Homo sapiens: one gene and its partners. The protein of the gene in region 1 purifies or fractionates together with the protein of each later gene. This does not show direct contact. Each region holds a gene or a part of one and is shown on either strand. Other genes may lie near its edges. The genes, in order: WSB2, SUPT6H, CLASRP, HSF2, NUDCD3, DIRAS2 and ISY1.

Region 1 (3,500 bases):
TTGAGACAGAGTTTCACTCTTGTTGCCCAGGCTGGAGTGCAATGACACCATCTCAGCTCACCGCAACCTCTGCCTTCCGCCTCCCGGGTTCAAGCGATTCTCCTGCCTCAGCCCTCTGAGTAGCTGGGATTACAGGCATGCGCCACCAAGCCCGGCTTATTTTGTATTTTTAGTAGAGATGGGGTTTCTCCATGTTGGTCAGGCTGGTCTCGAACTCCCGACCTCAGGTGATCTGCCCGCCTTGGCCTCACAAAGTGCTGGGATTACAGGCATGAGCCAATTTTTTTTTGAGACAGAGTCTCGCTCTGTCACCCAGGCTGGAGTGCAGTGGCACGATCTCGGCTCACTGTAACCTCCGCCTCCTGGGTTCAAGTGCTTCTCCTGCTTCAGCTTCCCGAGTAGCTGGGACTGCAGGTGCCCGCCACCATGTCTGGCTAATTTTTTTTTTTTTTTTTTTTTTTTGGATTTTTAGTAGAGACATGGTTTCACCATGTTTGCCAGGCTGGTCTTAAACTCCTGTCCTCAAGTGATCTGCCTGCCTTGGCCTCCCAAAGTGCTGGGATTACAGATGTGAGCCACTGCACCTGGCAAAAATATTTTATAAATATACACATATGCATCTCTACCATCTGTTTTATTGAATCCAAGATACCATGGATTGTATTATCATCATGTATAACTGAGAAAAAAATACTACCTATTTAACTATGAAAAGTCATTGATTATAAGATACATCCTGATTTCAGCGAGGTCAAAATGTAAGATATATAAAGATGTGTCTTAAAATATATGAAATACGGGTTTTAAAAATGAATATCTATCTGGTAACAGCCAGGGTCAAAGTCTTCCACATTCCACATTCCTTGTGTGGAATGGACACATCAGGAAGTGACCTTATTCAGGATGGAAGCCAGTTTTTATATTAGTAAGTATCACAGTCATAATGGTCAAAAAATTCATTCTGAAGGCCTTTAACTTATAAGCTTCATCAGCCATGAGAATCTTCCATCAGAGTAGAGAACTGAACTAGGAACTGTGGGTCAGTCAATGAAGAAGCTCCAATCTGGTGCCTACTCTTTCACAAGATGGTGTGCTAGGTCCTGGGAGAAACAAAGACAAAATGATCTGGGTGTTGGAACAAGGTGCTTAGACACTGATGACGAGGGCGGGGGGCAGAGAGAAATTGGTTACATAAGAGAGAATGAAATAAACAAGGTGCGACTTATTTCCGTTTTGATAGTGTGAGATCAGGGTACGCTTCTTAGTTGTGAATCTAGGTGGGATTATTACTTTTTTCTTTCTTTCTTGTTACTTTGAGAAGCTAGGGATTCTCATAAGCAAAAGTGGGTCCAGGTGTGAACGTAAATAAGCCCCTTGCATGTCAAGGAGATTTTGTGGCCAGAGTGTGGCCTGCAGGGAGGGGACAAGGGAAGGAGGTTGGACCGATGGGCTGGGGCAGATGGCATGTGGTGAAAGTCCTGGTCTCAGTTGCCTTTATGATGTAGGCAGGCGGGAGCTTTCTAATGTATTTGAAAGAAATGATGTGATGTGTGGGTATTTCAGCTTTAGCAGCATCTCTAGGGGTAGGAAGACTGATCAGGAGACTGTAGCAAAAGATCTGGGTGAGATGAGATGAAGGTTTAACCCCAGACAGAGGACGTGGAAGCGGGAGAGATGGGGAGATGGAATCCATACTTCTGAGTGTGAGGAAGCAGGGCAAGGGCTGAACGTTTTTAGCCTTGATGATGGGGAGGATGCAGGCGAGTGAGAGGGAGCCTTTGAGTTTCACATATTCCTTCTTTGACAGCAGCAGGTTCTTCTGAAGAAACCTGAAATGCATTGGAAGGCCTTGCTATTTTGGCCCCATAATCAGCACCGTCTAGCATATTCCTGGTCTGGCTGTCTCTCCACTTTCCTCCCCTTCAAGTATTCATAGGAAAATGAGGCCTCCATTCACTGGGTTCATGGGCACAAAGGTTACTGTGAGTCATGGTTAACCAGCAGTGAGGAGTGCCAGGATTGAGTAACCGTGGTGGAATGTGGCCTGTGGCTGCTGTTATTGCCCTGGGTCATTTAAGTGACAACTCCCTCTGGGAATGGATAGTGTGGCTCTTTGCCACAGGGAGACAGTGGCTTTCCTGTGTCTGGGTGGTCAGGGAGCAAGGGGGTGTGTGTTTGAAGCATGTTGTCTCCTGCCCCAGAGGAACCGCTGCTGCTGGCCGAACTCAAGCCCGGGCGCCCCCACCAGTTTGATTGGAAGTCCAGCTGTGAAACCTGGAGCGTCGCCTTCTCCCCAGATGGCTCCTGGTTTGCTTGGTCTCAAGGACACTGCATCGTCAAACTGATCCCCTGGCCGTTGGAGGAGCAGTTGTAAGTATTCTCGTACTGGGGCCCCATCCGGCGCATTTCCAAACACTCCTTGTTCTTTTGCCATCTCTGTGCCCAAGAACCAGAGAGAGGGAAGGTGGCTCATGGTTCAGGAATTGATCATGGGGGTTTCCAGAGCCCCAAGTTCTGTATATGTGAAAGTCAATTCTGTCAAGATTATGTTAGCCCCAAGTTGGCTTTTTTTCCCATAGCTTTATTGAGATGTAATTTATATACCACACAGTTTGTCCATTTAAGTATACAATACAGTGGCTTTTAGTCTATCCACAGAGTTGTGCATCCATCACCATCATCAGTCTTACTTTATTTATTTATTTTTTGAGACAGTCTCCCTCTGTCTCCTAGGCTGGAGTGCAATGGCGCAATCTTGGCTCACTACAACCTCTGCCTCCTGGGTTCAAGCGATTCTCCTGCCTCAGCCTCCTGAGTAGCTGGGATTACAGGCACACACCACCACGCCTGGCTAAGTTTTGTATTATTAGTAGAGACGAGGTTTCGCCATGTTGGCCAGGCTGGTCTCAAACTCCTGACCTCAAGTGATTCACCCACCTCGGCCTCCCGAAGTGCTGGGATTACACATTTCTCCCATGAGCCACTGTGCCTGGCACATAATCAATTTTAGAATATCTTTATTTCCTCAGAAAGAAACCCTGTACCCCTTAATTTAGATCCCCCAACCCCCCTGCACTCTCCAGGCAACCACTAATCTACTTTGTCTCTCTAGATTGGCCTATTCTAGACATTTCCTATTAATGGAGTCATACAACACGTAGCCTTTTTTGACTAGCTCCTTTCATTTTACATAATGTTTTCACAGTTCATCCGTATTCTAGCATATACTAGTATTTCATTTCCTTTTATTGCATCATATGGAGATGCCAAATTTTGTTCGTACATTTATCAGTTGATGGACATTGGGTTGTTTTCATGTTTTGGTTATTACAAATAGTGCTGCTATGAACATTTATAGAAAACCTGTGTTTTCTATGTTTAACTATTTGAGGAGGTGTCAGACTGTTTTCCAGAGTGGCTGCACCATTTTACTTTCCCACCAGCAGTGGATTCAGGTTCCAGATTCTCTACATCCAGCCGTTGTTATTGTCTGTCTTTTT
Region 2 (3,500 bases), on another chromosome or scaffold:
GTTGAGGCCTTAAAAGATTGAACTTGTGGGTCTGATAGCCTAATTAGAACAAGCTATGTGTGGGGGCTGCCGTACTCAAATCTGTTTTTAATGGCTCAGTTCAGGGCTGAGGGGGAGCAATGTCAAAATTAAAATTAGAGCTCTAGATTTAATTGGCAGAAGTTTAAGACTTTCACTTTTGGCAGTGCTCAAGCTAAATGACCTTAAGGATAGAGATCTTGGGGTCATGGGGGAGCATCACCCTAACCCCTAGGCTTACTATACCGCATCTCTTTAGGGTCTTTACAGTCACTCCTCAACTTTTTGGACTCAGGACCCCTTTATACTCTTAAAACTTATTTAGGACTTCAAAGACATTTTGTTTATGTGAGTTATATCCTTTGATATTTACCAGATTCGAAATTAAAACTCAGTGAGACATTTAAAAATATTTATTGATTTATTTTAAAGTAGTAAACAATAATACTTTTTATGAATAACAGTAGTTTTTTGGGTTTTTTTGTTTGTTTGTTTGTTTTGAGACGGAGTCTCACTGTCGGTGCAGTAGCACCATCTTGGCTCACTGCAACCTCTGCCTTCCAGGTTCAAGCAATTCTCCTGCTTCAGCCTCCTGAATAGCTGGGACTACAGGCGCCTGCCACCATACCCAGCTAATTTTTCATTTTTAGTGGAGGCAGAGTTTCACCATGTTGGCCAGGCTGGTCTCAAACTGCTGACCTCAGGTGATCGGCCTGCCTCGGCCTGGGGTTACAGGCATGAGCCACAGCACTCGGCCGAATAATAATAGTTTTTAAAACAAAACATTTTAGTAAGAATGGACTGGGTGTGGTGGCTCACTCCTGTAATCCCAGAACTTTGGAAGGTCGAGGCAGGTGGATCACTTGAGCTCAGGAGTTCGAAACCAGCCTGGCTAACATGGTGAAACTTTGTCTTAAAAAATAAATGAATAGCCGGGCGTGGTGGCTCACGCCTGTAGTCCCAGCACTTTGGGAGGCCAAGGCAGGTGGATCACTTGAGGTCAGGAGTTCGAGACCAGCCTGGCCAATATGGCCAAACCCCATCTCTACTAAAAAAAACAAAAATTAGCTAGACGTGGTGGCGAGCGCCTGTAGTCCCACCTACTCGGGAGGCTGAGGCAAGAGAATCGCTTGAACCCAGGAGGCGGAGGTTGCAGCGAGCCAGGATCGTGCCATTGCACTTCATCCTGGGTGAGAGAGTAAGACTCTGTCTCAAAATAAGTAAATTAAGTAAGAATGACATTCTTTGTTTTTTAGTACAATGTTTTAATGTCTGCTCTAACAGAATACAGCTGTGTTCTCATATGTTTTTGCATTCAGTCTGTTGTGATAACCACATGTCCTATAACCTCTGGAAAACTCCACTCTATGCTCCTGAGAGAACAGAGGGACTGGCCCCTGGACCACGCCCTGAAAACTATTGATAGATGTGGTACTGTCAACCATGAAGAGTCAGACAGACCTCAGCACTTACAGATGATAGTTTTGTCACCTTGAACAAATGACTACATCTCTCTGAGTCTGTTTCCTCCTCTGTTGAGAGAGAAGTGTGCTGTAACTCATAGGACAGTGTAGGGATTAATAGAATACTTGTTCTCCTTGATAGGGACATAAAATAGTAGGGTATTTGTTAGTGTCTGGCACTTGGTAGGTGTGTAATAAGCATTATTCCTCAGGGTACTTTTTAAAAAATTGCTTAAAATACCCAAGAGAGACCCATATTATTTTGATTGGGTTTTGTGTGTGTGTTGTGAGTTTATTGTCCAGTTCTCTTCCTGTGCCTGTTCTGTGTGTCTATTGTAATATATAAAACGATTTTATGGTCCTTATTTTCATATTTCTATCTCTAGGAGACATTCAACTCCTTGAAAATGAACAATCCGGCCAGGCGCGGTGGCTCACGCCTGTAAATCCCAGCACTTTGGGAGGCCGAGGCGGGCAGATCACCTGAGGTCAGGAGTTCAAGACCAGCCTGACCAACATGGAGAAACCCCCTCTCTACTAAAAATGCAAAATTAGCCAGCATGGTGGTGCATGCCTGTAATCCCAGCTACTCGGGAGGCTGAGGCAGGAGAATCGCTTGAACCCAGGAGGTGGAGGTTGCGGTGAGCCGAGATCACGCCATTGCACTCCAGCCTGGGCAACAAGAGCGAAACTCCATCTCAAAAAAAAAAAAGAAAGAAAATGAACAATTCTCTTCAAATCCCCAGCTCTTAGCAGAGTATATGTACATTGTAGGCATTCAGTTAGGTTTGTGGAAAGAATGGCATCTGAAACCTCAACCGAAAATTGAACATTCCCCCTCCCTCCTATACCTTCAGTTTTGTTTTCTTGAGTTTAGTTAATCTCAAGTTCATTGGTTATAGTATTGATTGAGCTCCGTAAGGGCAATTTTGAGGAGAATTAGAGCCACAGAACTTAAGGCACCTTCAGGTAGCCATTAGCCACCCTTCTCTTCTCTCCCCTCCCACTGCCATCTTTAACTGGGAAGATGGCAGCAATATGAAAACGTAAGTAGTTTATTTAACAGACACTTAACAGTTGCTAATTTGTTAGCAGCTAATTTGTTGCTAATGTGTTGCAGCACACCTGAAGGGATATAGCTTTTCTGGTGCAGAATCACAGAGTGCCTTGTAATGCCTCTTGTATTGCCATTTATGTTTTCATGATTTTTATTAGTCTCTCTATTGGATATGTTCTTTATCTTCCAGAAGCTTGTAGTCTAAGTGAGAGAAAGGTACATGGGATATATCCCATAGACCATTTTACTGGATGGGGTGAGGAGTGATGCTGAGTGTGTCAGCAGCCAGCTTTAGGGTTCCACAATGGAATCTTGTTGTGATGATGTGTGCTGTTTTTTAAGTCCTACTCAAGGCCCATCAAGCTCCATGTTACGGTTCTTGAAGATCCCTACTGTCGTTTCCAGGCTTTGGATGAGTCTGAAAGCAGGGAAGTAGAAGATAAAGTTGGGGTTGGTTGGTACAGAATTACAGAATGCTAAGGAAAATTAGGCTCAGGATTCAAATTCAAACTCAGGTTAACCCATCTTGAAACAATAGGTTCTTTCCCCTATGTCATGTAATATTCTCAACTATCCTGTAAGGTAGGTAGCGCTATTACCATTTTCCAGGTTAAGAAAGTGATATTCAGGCATGTCCAATAATTTGCTTAAGTTTATGTTTAGCCCGTAGGGTATGAAACCAGGATTTGATTTCTACTCTTGAGCCCAGCAGTCTTTCCATTTAACCATGTTGCATTTATTTTGTAGGACATGGAAGCCTTTCAAGATTTTTTGCCTGCAAGGGGAGTAAATGATAAAACTAGGCCCTTTTTGGACCCAAATGCTCCCAACCAGTACTCACACAAATTGGCTCAAGTTCATGAAGTATTTGTGTGTTTAATCTATTGAAAAGAGATTTTGCTTTTGACTTTGCTAATAAGTATGAATAGTGTATGTAAACATATGAAAGCACCTTTTATAAA
Region 3 (3,500 bases), on another chromosome or scaffold:
CACTGTCTCACTCGAATGTCCCAACCATGGAAGAAACATACTATTCTTTTTCTTTTTTTGAAACAGAGTCTCGCTCTGTCACCCAGGCTGGAGTGCAATGGCGCGATCTCGGCTCACTGCAACCTCTGCCTCCCAAGTTCAAGGGATTCTCCTGCCTCAGCTTCCCGAGTAGCTGGGATTACAGGTGCCCGCCACCACGCTTGGCTAATTTTGGTATTTTTAGTAGAGACAGGGCTTCACCATGTTGGCCAGGCTGGTCGCTAACTCCTGACCTCGTGATCCGCCTGCCTCGGCCTCCCAAAGTGCTGGGATTACAGGCATGAGCCACCACGCCCAGCTGGTACTATTCTTATGCCCATGTTACAGATGAGTAAACTGAGGCTCAAAGCCATGGGGTCCACCTGCCTGACATTAGGAATAAGCAGAACTAGGATTCAAACCCAGATGGGCCTGGCTACAAAATCTGCTTCTTTTTATTTATTTGCTTTTTAAGAGTAATTTTTTGTTTGTCTGTTTTGAGACAAGAGTTTCACTCTTGTTGCCCAGGCTGGAGTGCAATGGCATGATCTCGGCTCACTGCAACCTCCGCCTCCCAGGTTCAAGCGATTCTCCTGCCTCAGCCTCCCGAGTACAGGCATGCACCAAAATGCCTGGCTAATTTTTTGTATTTTTAGTAGAGACGGGATTTCACCATGTTGGCCAGGCTGGTCTCGAACTCCTGACCTCGTGATCCACCCGCCTCGGCCTCCCAAAGTGCTGGGATTACAGGCATGAGCCACCACGCCCAGCAGGTACTATTCTTATGCCCATGTTACAGATGAGTAAACTGAGGCTCAAAGCCATGGGGTCCACCTGCCTGACATTAGGAATAAGCAGAACTAGGATTTGAACCCAGATGGGCCTGACTACAAAATCTGCTTCTTTTTATTTATTTGCTTTTTAAGAGTAATTTTTTGTTTGTTTGTTTTGAGACAAGAGTTTCACTCTTGTTGCCCAGGCTGGAGTGCAATGGCATGATCTCGGCTCACTGCAACCTCCGCCTCCCAGGTTCAAGCGATTCTCCTGCCTCAGCCTCCCGAGTACAGGCATGCACCAACCTGCCTGGCTAATTTTTTGTATTTTTAGTAGAGATGGGATTTCACCACGTTGGCCAGGCTGGTCTTCAACTCCTGACCTCAGGTGATCTGCCTGCCTCAGCCACCCAAAATGCTGGGATTACAGGTGTGAGCCACCACATCTGGCCAAGAATAATTTTTTTATTGTGGTAGAAAACATTTACCATCTTAACATTTTTAAGTGTACAGTACAGTAGTAGTAACTACATCCACCCTGTGGTGCAACAGAGCTTTAGAACTTTTTAAATCTTACAAAACTGAAACAAAACTGAACTTCCCCTTTCCTCCTCCCCCCATCCCTGTCAACCTGCACTGTATTTTCTTTTTCTGAGGGTTTGACTTTTCTTTTAGGTTTTTTTTTCTTTACCAAAAATACAGAAGGTTTCACGAATTTTTGTGTCATCCTTGCACAGTGGCCATGCTAATCCCCGTATCGTTCCAATTTTAGTATATGTGCTGCCGAAGTGAGCTCCCTTCCTCCCTTCCTCTCTCTCTCTGTTTTTTTTTTTTTTTTTTTTGAGATGGAGTCTTGCTCTGTCACCCAGGCTGGAGTACAGTGGTGTGATCACAGTTCACTGCAGCCTGGAACTCCTGGGCTCAAGCAAGGTTTAACTATTTTAGATACTTATCAGCGGATCATACAATACTGTCTTTTTGCGACTGGCTTATTTCACTTAGCATAACATCTTCAGGGCTCATCGATATTGTAGCATAGGACAGGATTTCTTTCTTTTTTAAGATTGAATAATATTGCGTTATGTGTAGAGACCACATTTTCTTTCTCGATGTATCCCTCAATGGACATTTAGCTTGCGTCCACCTCTTGGCTATTGCTAATAATGCTGTAATGAACATAAGTGTATAAGTACCTCTTCAAGATCCAAAATCCACTTTTTTTTTTGGAGACAGAGTTTTGCTCTTGTTGTCCAGGCTGGGCTGCAATGGCGTGATCTAGGCTAACCACAATCTCTGCCTCCCGGGTTCAAGCGATTCTCCTGCCTCAGCCTCCCAGGTAGCTGGAACTGCAGGCATGTGCCACAACGCCCAGCTAATTTTGTATTTTTAGTAGAGATGACGTTTCTCCATGTTGGTCAGGCTGGTCTCAAACTCCTGACCTCAGGTGATCTGCTCACCTCAGCCTCCCAAAGTGTTGGGATTACAGGCGTGAGCTACCGCGCCCGGCCCAAAACCAACTCTTAACCACTGGATTATCCTGTCTCTAGGATCAGATTGTGTCAGAGGAGTTCATGAAGTTACTCATTCATTCATTCATTCATTCAACTGTTAAGCAGACCTTGTGCTAGGGTATGGCAGTAACTGAGATAGCCCTGGCCCTGCCCTCATGGGCTCACAGTCCAGTGTGGGACACAGACTTGTCCCCATACAAGGACAACCTAGAGTGGACAGCGCTGAGATGGGGGCCCACAGGGGGAACACCTGACCCAGACTTGGGGGTCAGTCTGGAGCTTCCTGGAGGAGGCGACGCCTGAGCTGCGACCTGTTTACTTCTTATTTCCGTATCAACAGAGGATTCTGTTTCTTTATCCAAACCACTGATTAAAAAGGAAAGTTGACAAGGACAGAAGCAATGACAGAACCGGAGTCTGCTTGGGACTGAAGACAGGGAGAGAAAGCAGGCACCAACGACAAATCAGGAAGACAGAAACCAACTGCATCTGGACATACTCATTCAGCCTGCCACAATCTACCGCAGCTTCACTGACACTCGCTCCACAGCCTCTGCTCTCGGCCCAAGGCTGAGATGAGAGTCCCCTCCTCAAAGCAGCCATCAGCCACGGCCCAGCCATACTCCACAGCTTGGCAGCCCAGATCGGAATGCAGGTCACGTTCACATACAGGGACAAAGGCCGCTTGTACAGGCCTGCACCACAAAGCACCCATAGACATTGGTTCTTTGAGCTCTTCCCCATTATCCAGTGAGAGGGGTTGGTCGTCACCACTGTCCTGAGGGGGAATACAATGCAGCAAGCTTCCCTGCTAACAGGGAGGGGGCCTGGAGTCTCAGCTCCAGCCTTCCTTCCTCTGCACCATCCCTCCACCTGGATCCAAACTCCAGTTCTATCAGCAACAGTAATGTCAATAACAAGAGCTAATATTTACTGAGCGATAGCGACGCTGGCCAGGCTGCTCTCAGTGGTCCATGTGTCCAACACTCCAACAACATCGAAGGACATGCTCTTGTCTCCACTGTTAGTGGCAAACCATTAATTGGCAACCAACATCTATTCCCTTTGCTACAACAGTAACAGAACTCCAAATATATCTGGTCAGGGCGACCCAAAATAAAGTCTACACCTCTTAGCCTTCCTCACGGCTGTTCATAAGACTACTTCCTGGTCAGCAGGGGAGGAGTGGAAATGTTAC
Region 4 (2,968 bases), on another chromosome or scaffold:
AGTTTACAGTTGGTTACACCATATATATTTAGCCAGCATGTAGATCTGGGACTTGCAGATGTCTGGGACTTACAGGAAAAATTAAGAACCTCTGCACCTCAGAGTTTGAACATGAAAGGAGCACTGAAGAAATTAACAATGGTAAAGATATAATTTCCCTACCACAGTCAGATGTGAGGAGAGAAGAAAGTGGTTCAAAGAAGCAATTTAAATGACAGAAAAGAACTGACAGAGCTACAGAAAGGACAAGAAGAAACACCACCTCAACTTTGAGGCTTCTAAATAGTGATAAAGAGTTTTAAGGATGTCATTATGTCATCCTGAGCTACTCTAAATATGTTCACTTATGCTAAATATTCTGTTTATGAGTGAAATGTATAATACATTTTTTAAATCAAAACTACTTAAAATGAATTTAATTGCTTAGTTAATTATCTCTCAATTAACATTTTGAAACCAGTCATCTTTGATTCATTCTGATCTTTTACTCGTGACAAATTCTATCTGTTCTGCTGCTGAAATCCCCCTTCATTTCATACTTAATATAGAACATCTTAATTCAGGTTCTTTGTTTTATCCCCTCAGTGACAGCAATAGTTCCTTAACCAGTCTTGTTATCTCTACTCAGATCTCTCTCTGTAGCCCATTTTCCCTGATGTTTCCCCATCTCATATATTTCAGATAATATACCAGTATTTACATATTGTATCAATTTTTCATTTTTTTCAGAAACATAAAATATGAAACAAGTACTTATATATATATTTTTTTCTTTTAGTCTGAGAATAAAGGATTAGAAACTACCAAGAACAATGTAGTTCAGCCAGTTTCGGAAGAGGGAAGAAAATCTAAATCCAAACCAGGTAGGTATAAATATAGTATTCAGTCTCTGTAGGTTTTTTTAATCCTATGCAGAAACAAGTGCAAGCCGAGGGTAGTCTTAATTGAATATGCTGGCTTTAGTTCTGTGAATAGTGTGTCGAGGTTCTAGTATATAGAGAAAGTTGAATTGGTGAGGTAACAATTCTTTAAGTTTTTTTTTTTTATCCTATTTAACTTTAGGAAACTAAAGACCCCTCATTTCTTAATTGTTGAATAAGAGCTATTGACTTGCACATTTTAAAATTTATTGACATAGTGCATCATGTCATTTCTTGTTTGGCTATATGAGAGTAGTAATTGCCTATGTGTACATCTCTGTTTTCATTTTTTTCCCCTCAGCTTGAACTCAGTATAAGCTGGTGATAAAAGAGTGTTTTTCTGATCTTTATAGATAAGCAGCTTATCCAGTATACCGCCTTTCCACTTCTTGCATTCCTCGATGGGAACCCTGCTTCTTCTGTTGAACAGGCGAGTACAACAGCATCATCAGAAGTTTTGTCCTCTGTAGATAAACCCATAGAAGTTGATGAGCTTCTGGATAGCAGCCTAGACCCAGAACCAACCCAAAGTAAGCTTGTTCGCCTGGAGCCATTGACTGAAGCTGAAGCTAGTGAAGCTACACTGTTTTATTTATGTGAACTTGCTCCTGCACCTCTGGATAGTGATATGCCACTTTTAGATAGCTAAATCCCCAGGAAGTGGACTTTACATGTATATATTCATCAAAATGATGAACTATTTATTTTAAAGTATCATTTGGTACTTTTTTTGTAAATTGCTTTGTTTTGTTTAATCAGATACTGTGGAATAAAAGCACCTTTTGCTTTTCTCACTAACCACACACTCTTGCAGAGCTTTCAGGTGTTACTCAGCTGCATAGTTACGCAGATGTAATGCACATTATTGGCGTATCTTTAAGTTGGATTCAAATGGCCATTTTTCTCCAATTTTGGTAAATTGGATATCTTTTTTTTACAAATACGACCATTAACCTCAGTTAAATTTTTGTTTGTTTTCCTGTTTGATGCTGTCTATTTGCATTGAGTGTAAGTCATTTGAACTAATGGTATAACTCCTAAAGCTTTCTCTGCTCCAGTTATTTTTATTAAATATTTTTCACTTGGCTTATTTTTAAAACTGGGAACATAAAGTGCCTGTATCTTGTAAAACTTCATTTGTTTCTTTTGGTTCAGAGAAGTTCATTTATGTTCAAAGACGTTTATTCATGTTCAACAGGAAAGACAAAGTGTACGTGAATGCTCGCTGTCTGATAGGGTTCCAGCTCCATATATATAGAAAGATCGGGGGTGGGATGGGATGGAGTGAGCCCCATCCAGTTAGTTGGACTAGTTTTAAATAAAGGTTTTCCGGTTTGTGTTTTTTTGAACCATACTGTTTAGTAAAATAAATACAATGAATGTTGAGTACTAGTGTCTGTTATGTGTCTTCTTTAGAGGTGACACTCACATGAAACAATTTTTTCTTCTCATAGGAAGCAGTAGCTTTAAACTGTCTGTGGTTCATTATTCTCAATATGAATCATACCAAGATATTTGTGCCTCATCTCGAAAATATATTGTATATTGCAACAAGGGAGAAATATAATCTCTAAATTTAATGTATTTTAAAGTTCTTTGTTTAAAAATTATACTGGGTTGCTTTCTATGTTTCTAATAAAAAAGTGAGAGAATTATGCCTCTCATTGTCCCAAATAGTGTAAGAATATTATCACTGGATGTCTGGAGAGAAGATAAGAGAAATAGTCAAATCACCTCTTTCCTTTGAAACAGTTGCCCAAGAGAATTATGGAGACTTAATGCAAGGCCAGGGCACTTTATCATGTGAAGAATTTCACCTTTGGGCAAAGGGCTGAAAGCAGTACAATTAATATTGTATAGGGCTATTTAATGAGTTTCAAGGCAGGTTTTCCTATTGGCCATATTCTGTCAGTGTCTTAGAATTTCTTTTATTATGATGTAAAGATTCAAAGTAAGGGCTAGCACAGAAGAATAGGAAAATTCCCTTAGGAGAGTTTTAGTTAGATCCTAAAATACTTGGCTCTGATGGTGGGATCTTGGTGAATTAA
Region 5 (3,500 bases), on another chromosome or scaffold:
TGGCCAGGCATGGTGCCTCACACCTATAATCCCAGCACTTTACGAGGCTGAGGCGAGTGGATCACTTGAGCTCACCAGTTCGACACCAGCCTGGGCAACATGGTAAGACCCTATCTCTACAAAAAATACAAAAATCAGCTGGGCAAGGTGGTGCACGCCTGTAGTCCCAGCTACTTGGGAGGCTGAGGTGGGAGGCTCGCTTGAGCTCAGAAGGCAGAGGCTGCAGTGAGCCAAGATCATGTCACTGCATTCCAGTATGGGCAACAGAGCAAGACCCAGTATCAAAAAAAAAAAAAAAAAAAAAAAAAATCCAAAAATTTGAAAAAAAAAAAAAATGGATTGTTTTGTCTGTGCTGAACATGTACAAACTTCTTGTCATTATTCCCCAAATAATACAGTGTAACAACTATTTACATAGCATTTACATTGTATTAGGGATTGTAAGTAATCTAGACATAATTTAAAGTCTATGGGAGAATGTGCATAGGTTATACACAAATATTATACTGTTTTATATAAGAGACCTAGACATCCATGAATTTTGGTATCCACGAGGGACCAGGAACCAATCCCCTGCAGATACCAAGGGATAAGTGTATTTATTAAGAGAGTTACTGCAAGAAATTGGCTTACATGATTGTGGGGGCTGGCTAGGCCAGTCTGAAATCCACATAGCAGGCCAATGTGGAACTCTCCAGAAACTGAGTGCAGCTGCTGTCCATCGGAGAAATTTCTTCTACTTCAGGGGAGCTCTGCTGCGCTCTTCAGGCTTTCAGCTGATAGATCAGGCCCACTCAGATCACCTAGGACAATCACCCTTACTTAAAGTCAACCAATTATTAACTTGCATCACATCCACAAAATACCTTGACAGCCATGCCAAGATGAGTGTTTGACTGAATAACCAGGACTGTAACTTAGCCAAACTGACAAATGAAACTGACCATCACAATAACCATGTCAGTAGTCTTTAAAAGCATTTTATAAATGTATTTCTCCATTCCCTTACTACAGAAATTCAGCATTCTTCCAAAATTTTGCTAATATAAGTAATGTTGGAATAAATAGAACTGAAGTGAACAATGCTATAGACTGAATGTTTGTGTCCCAAAATTCCTACGGTAAATCTTAATCCCAAGATATTGGGATGAGTACTTTGGGAGGTGATCAGGGCTCTGCCTTCATGACTGGAATTAGTGCCCTCATAAAAGATTTGAGAGAGTTCTCTCACCTCTTCCACCATTTGAGGACACAGCAAGGTAACTACGAATCAGAATGTGGGCCCTCACCAGACACTGAATCTGCCAGTACCTTGACCTTAGACTTCCAGTATCCAGAACTGTGAGCAATAAATTTATGTAGTCTATAAGCCACCCAGGCTATATTATTTTGTTATAGCAGCCTAAGTGGACTATGACAAACAACTTTGTATATTAAATCTTCATTCTTACATCTGATTATTTTACAGAAAGACTACTAGTAAGGAGGCTGCGCATAGAAAGAACTCCAAAAAACCTCATAGGATCCCCTTGAGTCTTTGGCTGAATACAAAACTGCACATGTGTAAAGTGCAACTCCATGAGACAAGTAGGAAACCTGGGTAACTGACATGGACAATCCCTAGAGCTGGGAGACGTTCAAGCCTCAACCAGTCAGAATGGAAAGACCTCACTAACAGCTGGAGCACTCAGAAGCCCCAAAAAGGCATGTCTTAGAAGACTAAGCTAGCTTTAAAATAAAAGTACCCTAGATACAGCTTAACAAAGCTGAAAAACAAGGCCAGACACATTGGTGCACACCTATAATCCCAGCACTTTGGTAAGCAAAGGTGGGAAGATCATTTGGGACCAGGAGTTCGAGATTAGCCTGGGTAACATATTAAGACTCCATCTCTACAATCAATTGATCAATCAATACAAATAAAAAACAAGCTTCAAAAAGATCATTCTGATCAGCAAATAAATTAATTGCCTGCAAGAACAAAACTCAACACTCAACAGAAGAAATCAAAACCCAGAGACTCGACAGCATAACATCCATTAATGTCTAGCATCCAATAAAAAATTATCAGACATTTGAAAGAAAAAGAAAATGTAACCCAAAATCAGGAGAAAACTCAATCCCTAGAAACAAACCAAGAAATCACAGAGATAATGGAATTAGCAGATAAAGACTTTAAACTATTGTAAGTATATTGAAGGATTTAAAGGAAAACCAAGGTAGAAATTGAAGCCATAAAAAACAATCAAGGGGAACCTGCAGGGCTAAAAAATAAACTATCTGAAATTAAGAAGTTACTAGATGAGTTTAACTACAGATTAGACACCAAAGGAGAAAAGACAGTAAAGTTGAAGACAGGTCAACAGAAAATATTCCAAAGGAAGGACAAAGAGAAAACAGACCTCCTAAGTGTGTGTGTGTGTGTGTGTATGTGTGTGTGTGCTCAAAAGTCTCCCAATAGTATAAACACAAGGACTATCATGCATGAGTAAATCTTAATCAAATTGCTCAAACTAATGATAATAACTTCAAGGAACTGATATAACAAGAGAATGGGGATATTTCACACACAGGGGAACAAAGAATGTCTACTCACTTCTCATCAGAGACAGTGCAAGCTAGAAGACAATGGAATGATAGTCTTTAAAATGTTTGAAGAAAAACAAAAACAAAAAAAAAGTGTCAACCTGCAATTCTATATCCAGCAAAAATATCCTCAGAAATGGAAGATGAAATAAAGGCATTTTCAGACAAAAAAGCTGAAAGAATTCACTATCAGCAGATCTGCACTATAAAAAATATTTTAAAAAGATCTGCAAGGAAATATCAGATGTCTGCCTTCCACCCTATACTCCCCACTTCCAATCTCTAAATCCTTATTTCACCCCTTCTCATCCAGAGCTCCATATTCAAGAGCTGCTCCCCTTCTCCATCAGCTTGGTTCTGCCATCAAACAATTGTTTTCTTCGAACTCCATTAGTTAGCCTGGACTTTAAGACTCTGCAATCTTGCCCCTCCTGTCTTTACAAAACTTATTTTCTCTTACTCCATATTTTATAAGCCATTCCAAGTTGTTCACTTTGCTTCATTAACTAGAAAAAAAAACAAAAACTCCCCCACAGCCTAGGCAATACAGCAAGAAAATATTTTTAAAATTTAGCCAGGTATAGTGGCAGACATCTCTACAAAAAATTACAAAATTAACCAGATGTGGTGGTGCATGCCTATGGTCCCAGCTACTCAGGAGGCTGAGGCGAGAGGATTGCTGGAGCCCAAGAGTTCAATTCATATATTGCGCTATGATCACACCACTGCACTCCAGCCTGGCCAACAGAGTAAGATCCGGTCTCTATTAAAAAGTGTGCACGCACACACACAATCTCCCCCAAAACACGTCAGAAAGAGAGTAAAGGAGTGAGAAAAACAGAAGAGAACTCAAGGTGGCAGGGATTTGGGGGCACACAGGTGACCCATCCTATCAAGGAGGGAAGAGAGTGAAT
Region 6 (3,500 bases), on another chromosome or scaffold:
TTATTGACTTATTATTGGCTATTTGTATATCTTCTTATTGACTATTAAATATAGTCAATAAATTCATATATCTTCTTTTGAGAAATGTCTTTTTAAGTCTTTTGCCCATTTCTAATTGAGTTGTTTTGTTGTTGTTGAATTGTAGAAGTTCTTTGTATATACCAGAACTAGTCCCTTATCAGATATATGATTTATAACAATACTCACTTATCCTGTGGGTTACTTCTTTCTTGATTGTGTCCTTTAGTTTTGATGAAGTCACATTTACCTAGTTTTAATCTTGTTGCTCATACTTTTGGTGTCACATCTAAGAAAACACTGTTTACTCCAAGGTTATCAAGGTTTATACCTATGTTTTCTTCTAAGAGTTTTATAGTTTTAGCTCTTATATTTAGGTATTTGATCTATTTTGAGTCAGTTTTGTGTATGGTGTGAGGGAGAGGTGCTCCCCTTATTCTTTTACCAGTTTCAGCGTCATTTGTTGAAAAGACTATTCCTTCTGCCTTTTGAATTGAATTTTATTGACACCCTTGTCAAAAAACAATTGACTGTAAATATGAGGGTTTATTTCTGGACTCTGAATTCTATTCTGTTCATGTATCTGTGTATCCTGTGTTAGTACCACAATTTCTTGATGTATTATATCCTTGTCGTGAGTTTGAAATCAGGAAGTATGGGTCTGCCAGCTTTTTCACTTTTAATTTTTCAACATTGTTTTGACTATTCTGGGTCTCTTGAATTTTTACATAAATTTTGGGATCGGTTTGTCAGTTTCTGCAGAGTCGCTAGTGGGATGCTTTTAAGAATTGCATTGAATCTGTAGGTGATTCCTGGAAATACTGCTATCTTAGCAGTAAAAGTCCTCTGATACATGACATGGGGTGCTTTTCCATTTATTCGTGTATTCAATTTCTTTCAACCATGTTTGTAATTTCCAGATATGTTTTGCATCTTTTGTTAAATTTATTCCTAAGTATCTTACTCTTTTTGATGCTATTATAAATTGAGTTATTTTCTTAAATTTCATTTTCAGATTGTTCATTGCAAGTGTATAGAAATACAGTTGGTTCTTTATATGAATGTTGTATTCTGAAATCTTATTGAATGAGTTTAATAGCTAGTTGCCCTCTTGTGAATTTTTCTCCTTGTCCATCATACTGCTCCTTTATGAACCCCTTATCTGCATGGTCCTTCTTGAATGTAGCCAAAAAACTATGTGCTGAGAGCTGTTCAAGTGCTTGATTGCATTGTGTTACTCCCCACATTAGTCTCATAAACAACTTGGCATTATTATATCCATTTCCTAGCTAAAGCAACTCAAATGCAGAAAGTTTAAGTAACTTGCCAAGTTCTCTCAATAGCATATAACAGATTGGGCATGTGGTATTCTCCTTTCATTCTACATGCTCTCTCCCTGGAGAATTTTTGTTTATTATAGTGCTGTTTGTGTATGAATGGTATCCAGATATTTATCACTAGATGAGTCCTCTCTGCTGAACTTTCACACTAAATCCCAATCACCTACCAGATATCTCCCCCATTTGTCCCATAAACCTGACCCAATCACAGCTCCTTTCTCCTTGTTGTTTACTGTCATTTCTCTAAAGCTGCTTCTCTCTTCTGCCTTTTATCTTGATTGATGGTGAGTGCCACCACTCACTTGCTACCCCAAATTCACTCCTGGATGCCAGTTTACACAAGCTGTCTACCATGGCATGAGCATTAGCTCTATTTCCTCCATTTATTCCTTCCTATGAAGTTCTTTCTTCTGACTAACACGCCTTTCATCACTTCACCATCTGGCAAGTTCCAGCCCTCTGTGAAATGCTTCCTGAGGGCTCCAGGCAGAGCTAGATTCCCCACTAGGTTCTTATCCTGCCTTTGTTGATAACTAGATCACAGCATCTGCGAAGTGGGGCGTAATGTATACTTTCCTATGCTTGTCCCCCCTCTAATGCTGTGAGTGCTGTTGGGTAAGCACTGAGTTTGCACAGTATCTAGAAGACATTTTATAAATGCTTGTGAAATAAATGAATGGTTCTGACATGGAAGAAAATAGTTTACAATTTTTTTTTTTTTTTTTTTTTTGTGATGGAGTCTTGCTCTGTCACCCAGGCTGGAGTGCGGTGGCATGATCTCAGCTCACTGCCACCTCCACCTCCCAGGTTCAAGTGATTCTCTACAGTCTGGGTTTTTGTTAGTGAGTTGAAGATCACTATGGAGTTATTGGCCCAGGCCTATCTCATAAATGCACATTGAACTTTATACCCCTTCAACTTTCTGACTCCTGTTCATCTTTCAGATTCATGCTTCCATGCCACCTCCTTAGTGAAATTCTTCCTGATATCTCAAATTTCATGAAATTCCTTCAGACCTCTCTTTTGCAGCACTTGCTATGATATAATTTATTAAATATTTATGAAGTTATCTTTTGGATTGATGTCTGCTTTACTTGATTCTGAGTTTCATGAGAATAGAGATCCTTCCTTAAGTCTGTCCTCTGCACAGTTGTTTTCTGGCCGCTTGTCCACAGCCTGGTTTAGTGGAAGCTCAGTGGATATTTCTCTGGGTAAATGAATAATTGTAGCCATGAATACTTTATTTTATGTTTAGCATTTACTTCCTATGTGTTCGTTGCCAGTTTAATAATGGAGACACCTTAACATAGCTGACCACATATTCAGCAAACTCATAAAGAGTGTATGTGCTGTGAACCAAGAGATCTTTGAGATACATTGGGATGCAGAACTTGTTAAGATATGTTCTCTTCCAGCTAGATGCTTATGCTCTAGTCTGGAGCTACATAACCATAATACAAGGCAAAACGAGTGAGGAAACTCCCTTCTAAGCAAAAAGAGAGCTTCATTCTGAGGATGTAGAAAGAAGCTTAAGATTAGATTCCATTGTCCATTTTCTATGGTTTAAATGTGTTCCCTAAAAGTGCATATGTTAGAAATGTAATCCTCAAATGTGTATGTTCATGGTATTTGGAAGTGGGGCTTTTAGGAATAGATGAGGTCATGAGGAGGCTGGGCAATGCCTGTCATGGCATCAGTGGCTTTATAAGACAAGGAGAGAGACCCTAGCTGACATGCTTGCTCTGTCTTATCATGCCATGCCCTCCAGTATGTTATGAGGCAACAAAAGGCTCTCACCAGATCCAGCTTCTTCATATTGGACTTACCATCCTCCAGAACTGTAAGAAGTAGATTGCTTTTAAAATTATTTCATCTGAGGTATTCTGTTATAGTGACAGAAAACAAACTAAGACACGATTGAGTTTTTTTAAAAAAATTGTGGAAAAATTTATCACAATGCTTCACCCTTGAATTAATCATAATTATCTCATAAGCATTTAATAAACTTCACCAAACTCCTAAGCAGACTCTTCTGCCATCTTTTGGTGTTAATGAACTTCCTAACAGTCTTTTATATTTTCTGTTAGCATTGATGTTTCCTTAGCTTCTTGGAGGGTTTGGGATTCCAAAGTGCATGCAAGA
Region 7 (3,149 bases), on another chromosome or scaffold:
CCTTGGAGTTCTTCCATCCCCCAGTGGTACCTCAGGACCCAGGGCTGCAGACACAGGCTGGTGCTGCAAGGGCTCCTGCCCCATTCTCAGCCTTCCTTCCCTCTCCTTGTCTCATGTTGACCGGAGGGTAGGGGTCTGTCCCTGGTCTTCCTGGTAGGTTTTGTACACATATTTTGCTACTGTGTGGATCCATTTATTTTTATTGTGGAGTGTATACAACAGGTTGCGAACTGGCTGCCTGTGTCTTATTTTGACTTGCACTGCCATTTTGAGGGGAGAAGAATCAATTAGTGGCAAACATTTAAAAATGCAATTTTTTGCAGACCAAAGTATAATTTTAAAAAATGCAAATTTTCTAAAAGACACATCTCTTGAAAAATGAGATGATGTGGCCAGGCGCAGTGGCTCACGCCTGTAACCCCAGCACTTTGGGAGGCCGAGGCGGGCGGGTCACGAGGTCAAGAGATGGAGACCATCCTGGCCAACATGGTGAAACCCCATGTCTACTAAAAATACAAAAAAATTAGCTGGGCGTACTGGCATGCACCTGTAGTCCCAGCTGCTTGGGAGGCTGAGGCAGGAGAATCACTTGAACCCGAGAGGTGGAGGTTGAAGTGAGCCAAGATCGTGCCATTGCACTCCAGCCTGGCGACAGAGTGAGACTCTGTCCCAAAAAAAAAAAAAAAAAAAGATGCACGCAACCCACAAGTCAATGACCAGGTCCCTCTGTGTTGGTTGCTGCTCTGGGCTCTCCGTTAGCCCCCCTCCACCTGCTCCACTCGCTCCTGCCTGGGTGGCAGGAATTTGAGTTTGCTATTCCTGTTTTATAACCTGTTCTGCAGAAACCTATTTTTATTAAAGATTTTTATAAGAAAGGGAAACCTCCATGTCTTCAGCTTGTTCCCTGGGCCAACGGCTCTGAGGTGACAGTGGCATTAGGATGTGACCAGTCACTAAGGGGCACTGCCTTCCTGCAGGGGAGTCCCTGAAGCCCCAGCCCCAAGTGTGGCAAAGACAGGACCAGATCCCAGGAGTCTAGGTGGGAGTGAGCCGACCCACCATGGCGTCCGTGGCCACAGCTGTAGACAGGGCTCCTTGCAGTGGGCTGCACCGTGGCCTGCTGAAAGCACACAGTGGACACGAGCTGAGTCCAGAGCTTCCTCTGAACTGGGGCTTAGCTCTCCAGTGGGGAACCATGGTCAGCGGCTGTAGCCCCTGGGCAAGATGGTGCCTGGCTTCCTGCCCTCTGCAGGGTCATGGGAGTGTCTGGGAACTCAGGGTCAGGGCCAGATGGCTGTTCCTGGGGCCTGGGGCTCCAGCTCAGGCTGTTTGGGAATAGGAGGAACTCTTGGCTTGGAGAAGCCCATCACACAGCGGGAGGCCTGGGATGGTTGGTCTGCGGGGAGCAGCTCAGACTGGGGGTGGCAGAGCCGTGTGTGGCTGTGTGTGGCCAAGTCGGGAGAGTGGCCAGTGCTGGGCCCTCTCTAAGGAGCCCGAGGGCCACAAGGACTGTGGAAAAGGTCTGAGTGAGGGAGTCGGGAGCTAGTGGCTAAGGGACTTGCTTGAGGACGCTCCGTGCGGCCACAAGGAGAGGCCCAGGCAGGACCAGGTCAGGAGGAGGCTGGGGCAGAGGCCCTGGCAGGAGGTGGGTGGGCTTGGTGGGGATGGGAGTAGCCAGGGTGTAGGTGAGGATGGGGAAGGGGCCCCCCTGCCTCCTGGCTTCCCTGAGGGCTGGGCTGGCCAATCCCAGCCCTCAGTCAAGCCCGGAGGCAAATGTGTGCAGGGAGGAGAGGTGTCCAGGTTGAAGCTTTGGGAGCCCTTGGAGGCAGCAAGGCAGACTCGCCTCTGGGACCCAGCACCCAGCTTGGGCCTGCAGGTGGGGACTCAGGAGTGAATATCGTGGGGGCTTTGAGCAAGACCCTCTGGGCCCAGCCTCACCTTCCATACTTTGAAGTCAAGGAGTGGACCTGTGCTGTCTCAGTTTGCTCTGGGGTCTGGGCAGTCCTGTGGTTTGGGCAGAGGCCTCAGAGGGCCCTAGGGACAGACTGACCCAGGTCTGAGCCTCTTGGGAGCGTGCGGATGGCCGGCCTCAGACAGGCCTGGTTGTGGGTTTGTCTTCCAAGGGGCACACGCGCACTCTGGTGCTTCCTGGCATTCAGAAGAGAATGGGGAATCCAGACATCAGGCCTTCCTTCTCCCTGGGAAGGATGGCAGGTGCTTGGAGCCAGGCCTGTCTTGAGAGCCAGGGCTCTGGGTCTTCCTCCTCCAGTGCCCTGTTCCACGCCTTCAGTGCACAAAGCACTCCCCTCCTGGGATCTCTTCAGGGATCCCCGGGATGCAAACTGGCCAGGGATTAGAATTCCACATTTGAGCAAACAGACTGAGAGTGGAGAAGCACCCAGCTGGACATCCTCTAGGTGTTCCTGGCAGAGGCCCTTGCTACTTGTCTGTGCCCAAAGGCCCTAGAGGGTCCTAGATGTGGGACAAGGTCTCAGCAGGGCTCCAGTCCCAGGCCTGGAAACAGCTGGGGGTGGGGGAAGCTGGCTGGGTGGGTGTGGTTATCTTTTCCCAGCTTGTGGCTCCGAGGTGACAGAACCAATCTCAGGAGGCTTTGTTTGGTTAATAAAATCTACTGAATGGTTTATTTTAGCTTTGGCTCTGCCTGTGGTTTCCCGAAAAGCTACTTTTTCATAGTCATGTTTCCATCAACTTCCTTCTTCCCTCACACTGCCTGTCCTCCAGCGTCTAAAACACACCACCTCCCTCCTGTTTTGCTTTAAGACTGGTCACAGCATCCCCACCCAGGCCTCCTGGACCTCCTCCCGCTGCATCCCCAACTGGCTGACCCCATCTGCCCTTGGGCAGTTTATAAACAAGGAAGAAATGAAAACCTTTCTCCTCTTGCCCTGCACTTGCTCTGCAGTGCTGCGCATGCACACCCCATTCCCTGAAACACTGGCAGGATCTGGACCCTAGCTGGGGCTCCTCACCCTGCTCACTGTGCAGCACTGAAAGCAGGAACCCGCCTGGATGGACATCAGGCCTGGCCCAGCACCCAGCTGACTAGCAAGCAGAGGGATCCAGGGGGACGGGCAGCGGCACCCAGCTCCTTCTGGCATCTCACTTGCTGCCCACCTGCTCCACCAGAA

Evidence for each region.
Region 2: the proteins of WSB2 (region 1) and SUPT6H purify together in Homo sapiens (affinity purification with mass spectrometry; one large-scale study listed by BioGRID and IntAct). This does not show direct contact.
Region 3: the proteins of WSB2 (region 1) and CLASRP purify together in Homo sapiens (affinity purification with mass spectrometry; 2 studies listed by BioGRID and IntAct, with this or other methods). This does not show direct contact.
Region 4: the proteins of WSB2 (region 1) and HSF2 purify together in Homo sapiens (affinity purification with a luminescence readout; one large-scale study listed by IntAct). This does not show direct contact.
Region 5: the proteins of WSB2 (region 1) and NUDCD3 purify together in Homo sapiens (affinity purification with a luminescence readout; one large-scale study listed by IntAct). This does not show direct contact.
Region 6: the proteins of WSB2 (region 1) and DIRAS2 purify together in Homo sapiens (affinity purification with western blotting, with the first as the bait; one study listed by BioGRID). This does not show direct contact.
Region 7: the proteins of WSB2 (region 1) and ISY1 purify together in Homo sapiens (affinity purification with mass spectrometry, with the first as the bait; one large-scale study listed by BioGRID). This does not show direct contact.

Annotation. Positions count from the first base shown.
Region 1 is NC_000012.12:118,051,180-118,054,679, reverse strand, and holds part of WSB2 (WD repeat and SOCS box-containing protein 2), read left to right. Parts: intron 1-2,201; coding exon 2,202-2,370; intron 2,371-3,500. UniProt on the Homo sapiens protein: May be a substrate-recognition component of a SCF-like ECS (Elongin-Cullin-SOCS-box protein) E3 ubiquitin ligase complex which mediates the ubiquitination and subsequent proteasomal degradation of target proteins.
Region 2 is NC_000017.11:28,668,705-28,672,204, forward strand, and holds part of SUPT6H (transcription elongation factor SPT6), read left to right. Parts: exon of another isoform or gene 1-2,527; intron 2,528-3,500.
Region 3 is NC_000019.10:45,045,545-45,049,044, reverse strand, and holds part of CLASRP (CLK4-associating serine/arginine rich protein), read right to left. Parts: intron 1-3,500. UniProt on the Homo sapiens protein: Probably functions as an alternative splicing regulator. May regulate the mRNA splicing of genes such as CLK1. May act by regulating members of the CLK kinase family.
Region 4 is NC_000006.12:122,430,652-122,433,619, forward strand, and holds the end of HSF2 (heat shock factor protein 2), read left to right. Parts: intron 1-778; coding exon 779-863; intron 864-1,273; coding exon 1,274-1,569; 3' UTR 1,570-2,468; downstream 2,469-2,968. UniProt on the Homo sapiens protein: DNA-binding protein that specifically binds heat shock promoter elements (HSE) and activates transcription. In higher eukaryotes, HSF is unable to bind to the HSE unless the cells are heat shocked.
Region 5 is NC_000007.14:44,480,659-44,484,158, forward strand, and holds part of NUDCD3 (nudC domain-containing protein 3), read right to left. Parts: intron 1-3,500.
Region 6 is NC_000009.12:90,615,325-90,618,824, reverse strand, and holds part of DIRAS2 (GTP-binding protein Di-Ras2), read left to right. Parts: intron 1-3,500.
Region 7 is NC_000003.12:129,126,915-129,130,063, reverse strand, and holds the end of ISY1 (pre-mRNA-splicing factor ISY1 homolog), read left to right. Parts: 3' UTR 1-2,649; downstream 2,650-3,149. UniProt on the Homo sapiens protein: Component of the spliceosome C complex required for the selective processing of microRNAs during embryonic stem cell differentiation. Required for the biogenesis of all miRNAs from the pri-miR-17-92 primary transcript except miR-92a.